Linked DNA regions of Homo sapiens. The protein of the gene in region 2 interacts with the protein of the main gene of each other region in a pairwise test. Each region holds a gene or a part of one and is shown on either strand. Other genes may lie near its edges.

Region 1 (7,037 bases), on a different chromosome or scaffold from region 2:
CTGCCCCACTCGGGCCTGTCCCCACAGGTGAGTACCTCCTGACCGTGCTGGCATCTAATGCCTTCGAGAACCTGACGCAGCAGGTGCCTGTGAGCGTGCGCGCCTCCCTGCCCTCCGTGGCTGTGGGTGTGAGTGACGGCGTCCTGGTGGCCGGCCGGCCCGTCACCTTCTACCCGCACCCGCTGCCCTCGCCTGGGGGTGTTCTTTACACGTGGGACTTCGGGGACGGCTCCCCTGTCCTGACCCAGAGCCAGCCGGCTGCCAACCACACCTATGCCTCGAGGGGCACCTACCACGTGCGCCTGGAGGTCAACAACACGGTGAGCGGTGCGGCGGCCCAGGCGGATGTGCGCGTCTTTGAGGAGCTCCGCGGACTCAGCGTGGACATGAGCCTGGCCGTGGAGCAGGGCGCCCCCGTGGTGGTCAGCGCCGCGGTGCAGACGGGCGACAACATCACGTGGACCTTCGACATGGGGGACGGCACCGTGCTGTCGGGCCCGGAGGCAACAGTGGAGCATGTGTACCTGCGGGCACAGAACTGCACAGTGACCGTGGGTGCGGCCAGCCCCGCCGGCCACCTGGCCCGGAGCCTGCACGTGCTGGTCTTCGTCCTGGAGGTGCTGCGCGTTGAACCCGCCGCCTGCATCCCCACGCAGCCTGACGCGCGGCTCACGGCCTACGTCACCGGGAACCCGGCCCACTACCTCTTCGACTGGACCTTCGGGGATGGCTCCTCCAACACGACCGTGCGGGGGTGCCCGACGGTGACACACAACTTCACGCGGAGCGGCACGTTCCCCCTGGCGCTGGTGCTGTCCAGCCGCGTGAACAGGGCGCATTACTTCACCAGCATCTGCGTGGAGCCAGAGGTGGGCAACGTCACCCTGCAGCCAGAGAGGCAGTTTGTGCAGCTCGGGGACGAGGCCTGGCTGGTGGCATGTGCCTGGCCCCCGTTCCCCTACCGCTACACCTGGGACTTTGGCACCGAGGAAGCCGCCCCCACCCGTGCCAGGGGCCCTGAGGTGACGTTCATCTACCGAGACCCAGGCTCCTATCTTGTGACAGTCACCGCGTCCAACAACATCTCTGCTGCCAATGACTCAGCCCTGGTGGAGGTGCAGGAGCCCGTGCTGGTCACCAGCATCAAGGTCAATGGCTCCCTTGGGCTGGAGCTGCAGCAGCCGTACCTGTTCTCTGCTGTGGGCCGTGGGCGCCCCGCCAGCTACCTGTGGGATCTGGGGGACGGTGGGTGGCTCGAGGGTCCGGAGGTCACCCACGCTTACAACAGCACAGGTGACTTCACCGTTAGGGTGGCCGGCTGGAATGAGGTGAGCCGCAGCGAGGCCTGGCTCAATGTGACGGTGAAGCGGCGCGTGCGGGGGCTCGTCGTCAATGCAAGCCGCACGGTGGTGCCCCTGAATGGGAGCGTGAGCTTCAGCACGTCGCTGGAGGCCGGCAGTGATGTGCGCTATTCCTGGGTGCTCTGTGACCGCTGCACGCCCATCCCTGGGGGTCCTACCATCTCTTACACCTTCCGCTCCGTGGGCACCTTCAATATCATCGTCACGGCTGAGAACGAGGTGGGCTCCGCCCAGGACAGCATCTTCGTCTATGTCCTGCAGCTCATAGAGGGGCTGCAGGTGGTGGGCGGTGGCCGCTACTTCCCCACCAACCACACGGTACAGCTGCAGGCCGTGGTTAGGGATGGCACCAACGTCTCCTACAGCTGGACTGCCTGGAGGGACAGGGGCCCGGCCCTGGCCGGCAGCGGCAAAGGCTTCTCGCTCACCGTGCTCGAGGCCGGCACCTACCATGTGCAGCTGCGGGCCACCAACATGCTGGGCAGCGCCTGGGCCGACTGCACCATGGACTTCGTGGAGCCTGTGGGGTGGCTGATGGTGGCCGCCTCCCCGAACCCAGCTGCCGTCAACACAAGCGTCACCCTCAGTGCCGAGCTGGCTGGTGGCAGTGGTGTCGTATACACTTGGTCCTTGGAGGAGGGGCTGAGCTGGGAGACCTCCGAGCCATTTACCACCCATAGCTTCCCCACACCCGGCCTGCACTTGGTCACCATGACGGCAGGGAACCCGCTGGGCTCAGCCAACGCCACCGTGGAAGTGGATGTGCAGGTGCCTGTGAGTGGCCTCAGCATCAGGGCCAGCGAGCCCGGAGGCAGCTTCGTGGCGGCCGGGTCCTCTGTGCCCTTTTGGGGGCAGCTGGCCACGGGCACCAATGTGAGCTGGTGCTGGGCTGTGCCCGGCGGCAGCAGCAAGCGTGGCCCTCATGTCACCATGGTCTTCCCGGATGCTGGCACCTTCTCCATCCGGCTCAATGCCTCCAACGCAGTCAGCTGGGTCTCAGCCACGTACAACCTCACGGCGGAGGAGCCCATCGTGGGCCTGGTGCTGTGGGCCAGCAGCAAGGTGGTGGCGCCCGGGCAGCTGGTCCATTTTCAGATCCTGCTGGCTGCCGGCTCAGCTGTCACCTTCCGCCTGCAGGTCGGCGGGGCCAACCCCGAGGTGCTCCCCGGGCCCCGTTTCTCCCACAGCTTCCCCCGCGTCGGAGACCACGTGGTGAGCGTGCGGGGCAAAAACCACGTGAGCTGGGCCCAGGCGCAGGTGCGCATCGTGGTGCTGGAGGCCGTGAGTGGGCTGCAGGTGCCCAACTGCTGCGAGCCTGGCATCGCCACGGGCACTGAGAGGAACTTCACAGCCCGCGTGCAGCGCGGCTCTCGGGTCGCCTACGCCTGGTACTTCTCGCTGCAGAAGGTCCAGGGCGACTCGCTGGTCATCCTGTCGGGCCGCGACGTCACCTACACGCCCGTGGCCGCGGGGCTGTTGGAGATCCAGGTGCGCGCCTTCAACGCCCTGGGCAGTGAGAACCGCACGCTGGTGCTGGAGGTTCAGGACGCCGTCCAGTATGTGGCCCTGCAGAGCGGCCCCTGCTTCACCAACCGCTCGGCGCAGTTTGAGGCCGCCACCAGCCCCAGCCCCCGGCGTGTGGCCTACCACTGGGACTTTGGGGATGGGTCGCCAGGGCAGGACACAGATGAGCCCAGGGCCGAGCACTCCTACCTGAGGCCTGGGGACTACCGCGTGCAGGTGAACGCCTCCAACCTGGTGAGCTTCTTCGTGGCGCAGGCCACGGTGACCGTCCAGGTGCTGGCCTGCCGGGAGCCGGAGGTGGACGTGGTCCTGCCCCTGCAGGTGCTGATGCGGCGATCACAGCGCAACTACTTGGAGGCCCACGTTGACCTGCGCGACTGCGTCACCTACCAGACTGAGTACCGCTGGGAGGTGTATCGCACCGCCAGCTGCCAGCGGCCGGGGCGCCCAGCGCGTGTGGCCCTGCCCGGCGTGGACGTGAGCCGGCCTCGGCTGGTGCTGCCGCGGCTGGCGCTGCCTGTGGGGCACTACTGCTTTGTGTTTGTCGTGTCATTTGGGGACACGCCACTGACACAGAGCATCCAGGCCAATGTGACGGTGGCCCCCGAGCGCCTGGTGCCCATCATTGAGGGTGGCTCATACCGCGTGTGGTCAGACACACGGGACCTGGTGCTGGATGGGAGCGAGTCCTACGACCCCAACCTGGAGGACGGCGACCAGACGCCGCTCAGTTTCCACTGGGCCTGTGTGGCTTCGACACAGGTCAGTGCGTGGCAGGGCCGTCCTCCATGCCCCTCACCCGTCCACACCCATGAGCCCAGAGAACACCCAGCTTGCCACCAGGGCTGGCCCGTCCTCAGTGCCTGGTGGGCCCCGTCCCAGCATGGGGAGGGGGTCTCCCGCGCTGTCTCCTGGGCCGGGCTCTGCTTTAAAACTGGATGGGGCTCTCAGGCCACGTCGCCCCTTGTTCTCGGCCTGCAGAGGGAGGCTGGCGGGTGTGCGCTGAACTTTGGGCCCCGCGGGAGCAGCACGGTCACCATTCCACGGGAGCGGCTGGCGGCTGGCGTGGAGTACACCTTCAGCCTGACCGTGTGGAAGGCCGGCCGCAAGGAGGAGGCCACCAACCAGACGGTGGGTGCCGCCCGCCCCTCGGCCACTTGCCTTGGACAGCCCAGCCTCCCTGGTCATCTACTGTTTTCCGTGTTTTAGTGCTGGTGGAGGCCGCACGCTCTCCCCTCTCTGTTTCTGATGCAAATTCTATGTAACACGACAGCCTGCTTCAGCTTTGCTTCCTTCCAAACCTGCCACAGTTCCACGTACAGTCTTCAAGCCACATATGCTCTAGTGGCAAAAGCTACACAGTCCCCTAGCAATACCAACAGTGAGGAAGAGCCCCTTCCCACCCCAGAGGTAGCCACTGTCCCCAGCCCATGTCCCTGTTGCTGGATGTGGTGGGCCGGTTCTCACCCTCACGCTCCCCTCTCTGGACCGGCCAGGAGGCTTGGTGACCCTGAGCCCGTGGTGGCTGCTCCTGCTGCTGTCAGGCGGGGCCTGCTGGTGCCCCAGAGTGGGCGTCTGTTCCCCAGTCCCTGCTTTCCTCAGCTGGCCTGATTGGGGGTCTTCCCAGAGGGGTCGTCTGAGGGGAGGGTGTGGGAGCAGGTTCCATCCCAGCTCAGCCTCCTGACCCAGGCCCTGGCTAAGGGCTGCAGGAGTCTGTGAGTCAGGCCTACGTGGCAGCTGCGGTCCTCACACCCACACATACGTCTCTTCTCACACGCATCCCCCCAGGGGCCCTCAGTGAGCATTGCCTGCCTCCTGCTAGGGTCCAGCTGGGTCCAGTACACCAGAACGCACACTCCAGTGTCCTCTGCCCTGTGTATGCCCTTCCGCCGTCCAAGTTGGAAGGTGGCAAACCGGATGAGTATCCTGGGAGGGAGTGAGCTCACCGGCAGTGGCCAGGCCCCTGGGAAACCTGGAGTTTGGGAGCAGCATCCTCCATGGGTCCCCCAGTCCTTCCAGCAGGCCAAATAGACCTGTGTTGGAGGTAACCCCACTCCCACGCCAGGTGCTGATCCGGAGTGGCCGGGTGCCCATTGTGTCCTTGGAGTGTGTGTCCTGCAAGGCACAGGCCGTGTACGAAGTGAGCCGCAGCTCCTACGTGTACTTGGAGGGCCGCTGCCTCAATTGCAGCAGCGGCTCCAAGCGAGGGGTGAGTGTTGAGCGGGGTGTGGGCGGGCTGGGGATGGGTCCCATGGCCGAGGGGACGGGGCCTGCAGGCAGAAGTGGGGCTGACAGGGCAGAGGGTTGCGCCCCCTCACCACCCCTTCTGCCTGCAGCGGTGGGCTGCACGTACGTTCAGCAACAAGACGCTGGTGCTGGATGAGACCACCACATCCACGGGCAGTGCAGGCATGCGACTGGTGCTGCGGCGGGGCGTGCTGCGGGACGGCGAGGGATACACCTTCACGCTCACGGTGCTGGGCCGCTCTGGCGAGGAGGAGGGCTGCGCCTCCATCCGCCTGTCCCCCAACCGCCCGCCGCTGGGGGGCTCTTGCCGCCTCTTCCCACTGGGCGCTGTGCACGCCCTCACCACCAAGGTGCACTTCGAATGCACGGGTGAGTGCAGGCCTGCGTGGGGGGAGCAGCGGGATCCCCCGACTCTGTGACGTCACGGAGCCCTCCCGTGATGCCGTGGGGACCGTCCCTCAGGCTGGCATGACGCGGAGGATGCTGGCGCCCCGCTGGTGTACGCCCTGCTGCTGCGGCGCTGTCGCCAGGGCCACTGCGAGGAGTTCTGTGTCTACAAGGGCAGCCTCTCCAGCTACGGAGCCGTGCTGCCCCCGGGTTTCAGGCCACACTTCGAGGTGGGCCTGGCCGTGGTGGTGCAGGACCAGCTGGGAGCCGCTGTGGTCGCCCTCAACAGGTGAGCCAGGCCGTGGGAGGGCGCCCCCGAGACTGCCACCTGCTCACCACCCCCCTCTGCTCGTAGGTCTTTGGCCATCACCCTCCCAGAGCCCAACGGCAGCGCAACGGGGCTCACAGTCTGGCTGCACGGGCTCACCGCTAGTGTGCTCCCAGGGCTGCTGCGGCAGGCCGATCCCCAGCACGTCATCGAGTACTCGTTGGCCCTGGTCACCGTGCTGAACGAGGTGAGTGCAGCCTGGGAGGGGACGTCACATCTGCTGCATGCGTGCTTGGGACCAAGACCTGTACCCCTGCCTGGAGCTTTGCAGAGGGCTCATCCCGGGCCCCAGAGATAAATCCCAGTGACCCTGAAGCAGCACCCCGACCTTCCGCTCCCAGCAGCCACACCCACCGGGCCCTCTCCGGCGTCTGCTTTCCACAATGCAGCCCCCGCCCAGGAGGGCCCATGTGCTTACCCTGTTTTGCCCATGAAGAAACAGCTCAGTGTTGTGGGTCAGTGCCCGCATCACACAGCGTCTAGCACGTAACTGCACCCCGGGAGTCGTGGGCATCTGCTGGCCTCCTGCCGGCCTCCTGCGCTGCTGACAGCTTGCTGTGCCCCCTGCCTGCCCCAGTACGAGCGGGCCCTGGACGTGGCGGCAGAGCCCAAGCACGAGCGGCAGCACCGAGCCCAGATACGCAAGAACATCACGGAGACTCTGGTGTCCCTGAGGGTCCACACTGTGGATGACATCCAGCAGATCGCTGCTGCGCTGGCCCAGTGCATGGTAGGATGGCCCCACCTGCTCACCCTGCCCCGCATGCCTGCCAGGGCACTGGGTTCAGCCCCCCAGGGCAGACGGGCAGCTTGGCCGAGGAGCTGAGCCTCCAGCCTGGGCTCCTTCCTGCCATGGCGTTCCTCGGTCTCTGACCTGCTTCAGTAGCCTCAGCCGTTCTGTCCTGTGTGAACGCAGGGTGCCTCTCGGGGGACCCAGGGTGTAAAGAGGGGCCCAGATGTGGGGAGGGACTAAGAAGATGCTGCTCTGTGCCCTCCACTCTCCCCTCCCCTCCCCTCCCCCTTCCCTCCCCTAGCCCCTCCCCTCCTCCCCTCCCCTAGCCCTTCCCCTCCTCCCCTCCCCTAGCCCTTTCCCTTCTTCCCCCCCAGCCCTTCCCCTCCTCCCCTCCCCTTTTTCTCCACTCCCCTCTCCTCTCTCCCCTCCTCCTCCGCTCTCATGTGAAGAGGTGCCT
Region 2 (7,156 bases):
TACCACCTAGATGCTGATGGTGAACTGAGATACGTCTCTAGCTCCTGACTGCATCATGCTCACATGTCCCACATTGTATCTGATAGCTCTTTCTGAATGTCTAGTAGACATCTCCAACTTAACATGCCAAATACACAGCTCCTGATTCCCAAGAAAGTTCAGACTCCTATGAGAAATGTTACTGTACCAGTAATTCACTGTTCCTCAGCCCTGTGTTCCCAAGGCTAAGCTAGCTAAATACAGCAAATTGTCATTGATAAAGAGGCAACATACTATAATATATAAAATGTGATACATGTATGTTGTATACTGAAAATTGAATGAAATCAGGAACTATCCATATTTTTATTCACTAATAGTAAGATCTAATGAGTGTTTCTTTTGTGCCAGGTACTGTTAAGTGTTTCACGTGTTTTATGTTATTTAATCCTTTCTGTAATCCTACAGGTAGATATTATGGCCCCCCCTCCCCTTTTTTTTTTAGACCGAGTCTCAGTCTGTCACCCAGGCTGGAGTGCAGTGGCACTATCTCGGCTCACTGCAACCTCTGCATCCCGGATTCAAGTAATTCTCCTGCCTCAACCTCCCGAGTAGTTGGCATTATAGGTGTTGCACCACCACGCCCAGCTAATTTTTGTATTTTTAGTACAGACTGGGTTTCGCCATTTTGGCCAGGCTGGTCTCGAACTCCTGACCTCAAGTGATCCACCCACCACAGCCTCTCAAAGTGCTGGGGTTACAAGCATGAGCCACTGCATATGGTCCCATTTTCATATCAGGAAATGATACATGGGTACTCAGGGAGGTTAAATAACTTGTCCAAGGTCACAGAACTAGTTAATAATGGCTAAAATTTGAACCCAGACAGCCAACTATACTCTGAAGAGTCATGGTGGAAATTACAGCGCTATTTCCTACCCCAGGGTCTTGGGCCTATTCAAGTGAGATTCCATGCATTGTATTCTATTACTAGATGCTGTAGCCTTTAACCTATATGTGTATAGAACCCTCATGCTAAATGCTATGATTTGAATGTGTTTCCTAAAGTTCACGTGTTGGAAACTTAATCCCCAGTGCAACAGTGTTGAGAAGTGGGAGCTTTAAGGGGTGACCTTTAAGAGGGCGGTGCCCTCATGAATGGATTAATGCTGTTATTGAGGAGTGGGTTGGTCACCATGGGAATAGGTTTCAAATAAAAGGATGAATTTGACCCCCTTTCTCTCTGTCTCTCTTATGTGTGTGCACATGTTCTCTTGCCCTTTCACCTTCCACCATGGAATGAAACAGCAAGAATGCCCTTGCCAGATGCAGGCCCCTTGACCTTGGAATTCCCAGTCTCCAGAACCATAAGAAAGAAATTTCTGTTCTTAAGTTCATAATCAGAATAGAGGACAATATGAGCAGAGTGCTGCTTCTGCTAACATAGGTATGGAATGTGGGACAAAGAATTCTCAGAGAGTGAGCCACTGGGAAGTCCTAACTAAAATATGTGGCTACCGTACTTTTCTACTTGACACAGTCCTTGAGAGAGTGAATTAGGCAATGAGTGCAAATCCTTCAGGCTTTCCCCTTGAGTGACTTGGTAGACACTCAGTTAATTGCATCACTGGGGTTCACATCCACAGCTTTGCACAGCTGCCCCTTGGTCCCACGCCCACAGAACTGTGAGGCCTGCCTGTTCTTCCCACTGGGGCCTATTGACCTATTAGCTCCCACAGACACAGACACAAGCCACTGGGCACTGAATTTTAAAAGCTGATAATGTGGCAGCTTTAAGCAGTGAAAAATATTAGTGTGGAAAAGAAAGATGAGAAATCCAAGTCAGCTCTTGAAAAGCACTCATTTCCATAAATACTTTATTGAAACTGTTATTTTCAGAAAATGCCCAATTTCTGTCAGAAAAAAAAGTAATGAAAAGTCTTTTTTTTTCCTTCCAAACATATTGCATTATTTAGACTAAAAAAAAGCAAAAAACTTCTCAAGGATGGCTCTTTTCGGTAAAAAATTTTCAAACAAATGAAGTCTTTTTTTTGGTATTTTTTAAGGGTGGGTTTTTTATAAATATTATGCACAATGTTTTTGAAACATTTCCTGTCCTCAGTATACACCAACATACTTTTTGCTAAAAGCTTTCCAAAAATATGCTTATTAAACAAAGAAATAAATGCAAGACTGTATATGTTCTACTCATTTTGAATTAAAACATTCCCCTCTTCATCTTGCCTTTTGCTACATTATTTATCATGCTTTTTCACTTTTGAATAAAAGACCAATTTTTTAAAAACACGAACTATCCAATCCAAATGTTAATGCTCATCTTAGCTTACTTTCTTTTCTTTGTTTTCTAATCAGCAAACTCTATAAAGCCTGGTGTGTAAATAGGCAGTAAATATAATATTATTAAAAGATAAAACAGAGCAAAGAAACAGTATCAGCCGGTGTTTTGGGAGTTCTCACTTTTCTTTGTTTGTGATCACAATAAGGAAAAGAGATATCATATCTCTTTTCCTTAATTGTTATTTAGCATTGAAGACTAATGGAAAAGTCTAGCCAGATGTTTTAAAATAGAGACAAGATTTCAAGGAGCTATCTGTTATATTAGCTTTAAGTGAGTTTATCTTTTTAGGGTTTAAATGAGAAGACCATGTCATTCTTTGCTTAATGCACTGAAAATCTTTCATTTTAAAGGCAGAATCTCAGTAAAGAGGAATTCATATGCCTGGAAGCCTAAAAAAGTGTTTCATAGTGAAAGCCACTCATACATGTACATTATGTTCAGGAAATGCAAATGCAACAAGAAGGTGACCCTGACAATGGTTCTTCCAACCGTCACAGTTCCTGCCATGCAGCAGAAATTCTGAAGCTCTGAAAAACTGTCAGACTAGACATGCTTTTTAAAAAAGAAGAACACAGAAATTACTTACATCTGAGAGTTCCACCGTGAGGCCTCGCCTCTCCACTCCACAGACCTCTGCCTGGCCACGGATCCTTCACCCTGGCTTGACAGCTGGTTTAATCTGCAAGCCAGGGTGGAATGCGTGGTCTTGCACTTGCTGTTCTTTTCCGTCTTCGGAGGGCCAGCAGCCTGGTCATTTCCATGGCAACCAGGAGGAAGCTGCTGGCCTACCAGTCTCATTAACTACACGCAGGAGAGAACCTGCCTTGGTGACTGCTGACCACTCTTTTGGGGTTCTAAACTGGGAAGTTTCTAGAAGAAACTGAGGAGACTGTTGCTGTAGGCTGATCCCAAAGGATTGACACAAATGGAAGAAATTCTACTTTAGCAGGAAATTGAATGGATTAAATGTAGAGTACGGAGACTCCTTGATACTTTTACTTTCATGATTTATTCCACCTTTTTTGGTCTGATGAATTGTTACTTATGGTAAATGCCTGCACTACTGTATAAAGTGTCCTATCGTAGTTGTTCCAAAGAAAAAAAACTCATTTGAACTCCAAAGATAGACATTATTCTCTGTCTTTTTTAAAATTCATTTAAAAAAATATTAGAAGCCACAAAACCAATAAATAGGTAACAATTATTCTATGTACATTAACTGATAGTCCATGTGGGCTTCTATAACAAAATACCATTAGTTGGGTAACTTACAAACAACATATTTATTTCTGTAGGCTGGGAAGGCCAAGATCAAGGCAGATTTGTTTTCTGGTGAGGGTCTGCTTCCTGGTTCATAGATGGCACCTTCTAGCTGAGTCCTTACATGGTGGAAGGGAAACTGTGGTTTCTTCAGCTTCTTACAAGGGCACTAATCCCATTCATAAGGGCTCCACCCTCATGACCTAATCACATTCCAACATCTCCACCTCCTATGCTATCACATTAAGGATTAGGTTTCAATATATGTATTTTAAGGGAAGATAAATACCTGGGCCTTAACAACTGATGAAGTCTCACTAAATATGGGAAAAAAAGATAAGGCAGGGGTCCCCGATCTCCAGGCCACGGACTGGTACCAGTCCATGCTACAGTAGGAGTTGAGCAGTGGGTGAGCAAGAGAAGAAGCTTCATCTGTATTTACAGCCGCTCCCTATCAATCACATTACCACCTGAGCTCTGCCTTCTGTCAGATCAGCAGTGGCATTAGATTCTCATAGGATTGAATTGAGAATGCTATTCTATTGTGAACTATTGTGAACTGTGTATGCGAGGGATCTAGGTTGCATGCTCCATATGAGAATCTAATGCCTGATGATCTGTCACTGTCTCCCATCACCCCTAGATGGGACAGTCTAGTTGCAAGAAAACAAGCTCAGGGCTCTCACTGATTCTACATTATGGTGAGTGGTATAAGTATTTCATTATATATTATAATGCAATAATAATACAAAGTGCACAATAAATGTAATCGCTTGAATCATCCCCAAACCACCTCCTACCCCTGCCTGTCTGTGGAAAAATTATCTTCCATGAAACTGGTCTCTAGTGCCAAGAAGGGGACTGCTGAGATAAAGAAAAATCTTGCTAATTAAAAGCACTAGGAGTCTGGAGCAATTGATTTGTAATTACCCAGATACAGATTCTCCAATATGTTAAAGAAGAGAGCACCTCAGTAGGGAAATTTATTCATTCATTTATTTATTATTCATCTACTGAATCCTTACCACACACATGCACTGTGCCAGGAGATTTAAGGGGCACAGAGATCAATGTCATGGTTCTTGTCTTTAAGGAAGTTATACTATAGGAGGGGCAATTATGTAAGTTGCATCTGGGAAATGTTTGAAGGGAGATACAGACACAATGCAGGGGAATCCCAGTGAAGGTCGGCCTTTGCCAGGGAGACTGGTGAAGTCCTTGGGGAGAGGTAGTTTTGGATCTAGGCCTTAAGGGATGGCTGAGATCTGCATGGTCAGATGTGGGGGAAAGGACAACGATCTCTCATGGAGTGATTATTTGATGAACTGCGGATCCAAGCTGATGGATATATCCTTCCTCCTTTCTGCACCCAGAGAGCCTGGCACAAATGGCTTCTCGGTGGCCCACAGGATAAAGGAACTCAAGTAATTAAGAAAATTGCTGGAGCAAAGGTTTGGAGGTGGAAGAGTCCCAGGCCTATTCAGCCATTTGGAAAGCCAGTGAATCACAGCCAGAATAAAGGGAATTGAGAATAGAGAGAGGCTGCTATTGTTGGGTGATCAGTTTCAGCAAAGCACATATATGAATTCTACCATGTAAGAATAGCAAAGTGGATCTTGGTTCAAACCTTGAGTCTGTTACCTTCTTGCACATTATTTAAACTTTATAAGCCTCAGTTTCCTTATCTATAAAGTGGGTATAATAATACTTTGTTGAAAGGTAGAGCTGAGGAAAAAATGAGATAATATATGTGCACTGGATGCCTGAAGATGAGGGAGGGAAAGGCTGGCCAACAATACACCGAATACCCCAACTTTCCAGAGCAACTGTGGCTAATCCAATGGTTTGGCGTACTCAACCTCTATTTCAACATCTTTCTGTCTTGCCTGCCTCTACTGTAGAGACTGGAAATCTCTATTATTCAACACAACAGAGTCTCTTGAAGCTGAGGTTTCAGATGGGATTTAAGTTTTATTATTTATACTTGATTCAGAATGAAGTCACGTGGAGAGAGGATCCTGAGACTTTGGGAATGAATTAAGTGAGAAGAGAGAGGAGAGTACTGGGAATCTCTTGCTGGCCAGGGTCTCAGCAGATATGGCATGGTCTGTTGTGGGGGTGGCCTTCTGACTGAGTTGTTGACTGGTTGTGGCCAATATGGCATGGCTCAAGAGCTGAGGACTGTGGCACTAACTTCCTGTTGGAGAATGTGGCCTCTTAATTCAGCAACTTCCTGGTTGTGGATGAGGTAGTAGCTCCCCATGATGGTTCAATTCTATGGTGACTTTCAGAGTTCAGTCTAGAATCCATTTCTTCAGTCCTTCCAATGACTCAAGGCAGTATCTGTATATCTGAAGAAATTCCTGGTTTAAACCAGCTAGAGTAGACTCTGTTGCCTGTAACCAAGAACCCTGAATTATATACTAGTGCCTTAATTCTGTCCAATACAAGGTGACAGAGTTTGGATATATGTCCCCGCCCAAATATCATGTGGAATTGTAATCCCCAATGTTGGAGGTGGGGCCTGGTGGGAGATGATTGGATCATGAGGGTGGATTTCTCATGAATGCTTGATGCTGTCCTCACGATAGTGAGTTCTCATGAGATCTGGTTGTTTAAAAGTGTGTGGCACTTCCCCACACCTACTCCTGCTTTCCCCATGGGACACACCTGCTCCCCATTCACCTTCTCCACGATTGTAAGTTTCCTGAGGCCTCTTCAGAAGCCAAGCAGATGCTGCTATGCTTCCTGTACAGCCCACACAACCATGAGACAATTAAACCTCTTTTCTTTATAAATTACCCGGTCTCAGGTATTTCTTTATAGCAAGGCGAGAATGGCCTACTATACAAGGTAAGTGGAAGTTTGCTGGTACTGTCTCTTCTACTTCTTTATTTTAATGACTAAGATAAACAGCATAAGGTATTTAGTGTAAACTGAGCACAAATAAGGCAGCCAGTAATGGTAGCTACTATATTGATTACTCTTTGTGACTTTCTCTATTTATGACTCGGATGCCTTCCAGGACCTCTTGCTTAGTGGGGTTCCTGGCTGAAGGCAAAGAGTGTGAAGAGCCAGGTACTTCCCTGGAAACTTGAAGGCCAAACATGCAGCTGCTGATGGAATGTGGCTGGGGCCCTGTGTATGGCATGTTAAACATTTACCCCAGGTTTTATATCTCCCTGTCTTTTTAAAGCATTTACTTCCACTGGCTCTTTGTGTTAACCGGTCACATAGTTTAAGTTGATTTAGCAGCAATGAGTATTGGGAAGGTTAATAAAACCACACCTCAGACTGCCTGTTTTGTTCAGCTGTGGAGCCAACGGGTGGTGGACAAGTGTTTGTTCACAATGAGATGGAATTCTAGCTTTGTCCTTGACCAATTTTGTTTTCTTTCTCCGTTTTATTTTTTATCATAAAAGCAATGCAGTTTTTCTGATAGCACATTCAGATAATATCCAATGTATTAAGCAAAAGTGAAAATCCACACCCCCCTCTACAACTGATCTTCTGGAAATAATGTCTGGTGTAAGTCTGCAGTGAAGCAAATCTTGCTTG

What was found. Proteins that work in one complex are often made in the same cells at the same time.
Region 1: the proteins of EPCIP (region 2) and PKD1 interact in binary tests that used the Homo sapiens proteins (3 or more experiments, as listed by UniProt).

Annotation. Positions count from the first base shown.
Region 1 is NC_000016.10:2,104,862-2,111,898, reverse strand, and holds part of PKD1 (polycystin-1 isoform 1 precursor), read left to right. Parts: intron 1-27; coding exon 28-3,647; intron 3,648-3,866; coding exon 3,867-4,016; intron 4,017-4,950; coding exon 4,951-5,094; intron 5,095-5,145; exon of another isoform or gene 5,146-5,221; coding exon 5,222-5,501; intron 5,502-5,594; coding exon 5,595-5,808; intron 5,809-5,874; coding exon 5,875-6,034; intron 6,035-6,424; coding exon 6,425-6,577; intron 6,578-7,037. UniProt on the Homo sapiens protein: Component of a heteromeric calcium-permeable ion channel formed by PKD1 and PKD2 that is activated by interaction between PKD1 and a Wnt family member, such as WNT3A and WNT9B. Both PKD1 and PKD2 are required for channel activity.
Region 2 is NC_000021.9:32,810,668-32,817,823, forward strand, and holds the start of EPCIP (exosomal polycystin-1-interacting protein precursor), read right to left. Parts: upstream 3,037-7,156; 5' UTR 2,925-3,036; intron 1-2,924. UniProt on the Homo sapiens protein: Likely to be involved with PKD1 in the detection, sequestration and exocytosis of senescent mitochondria.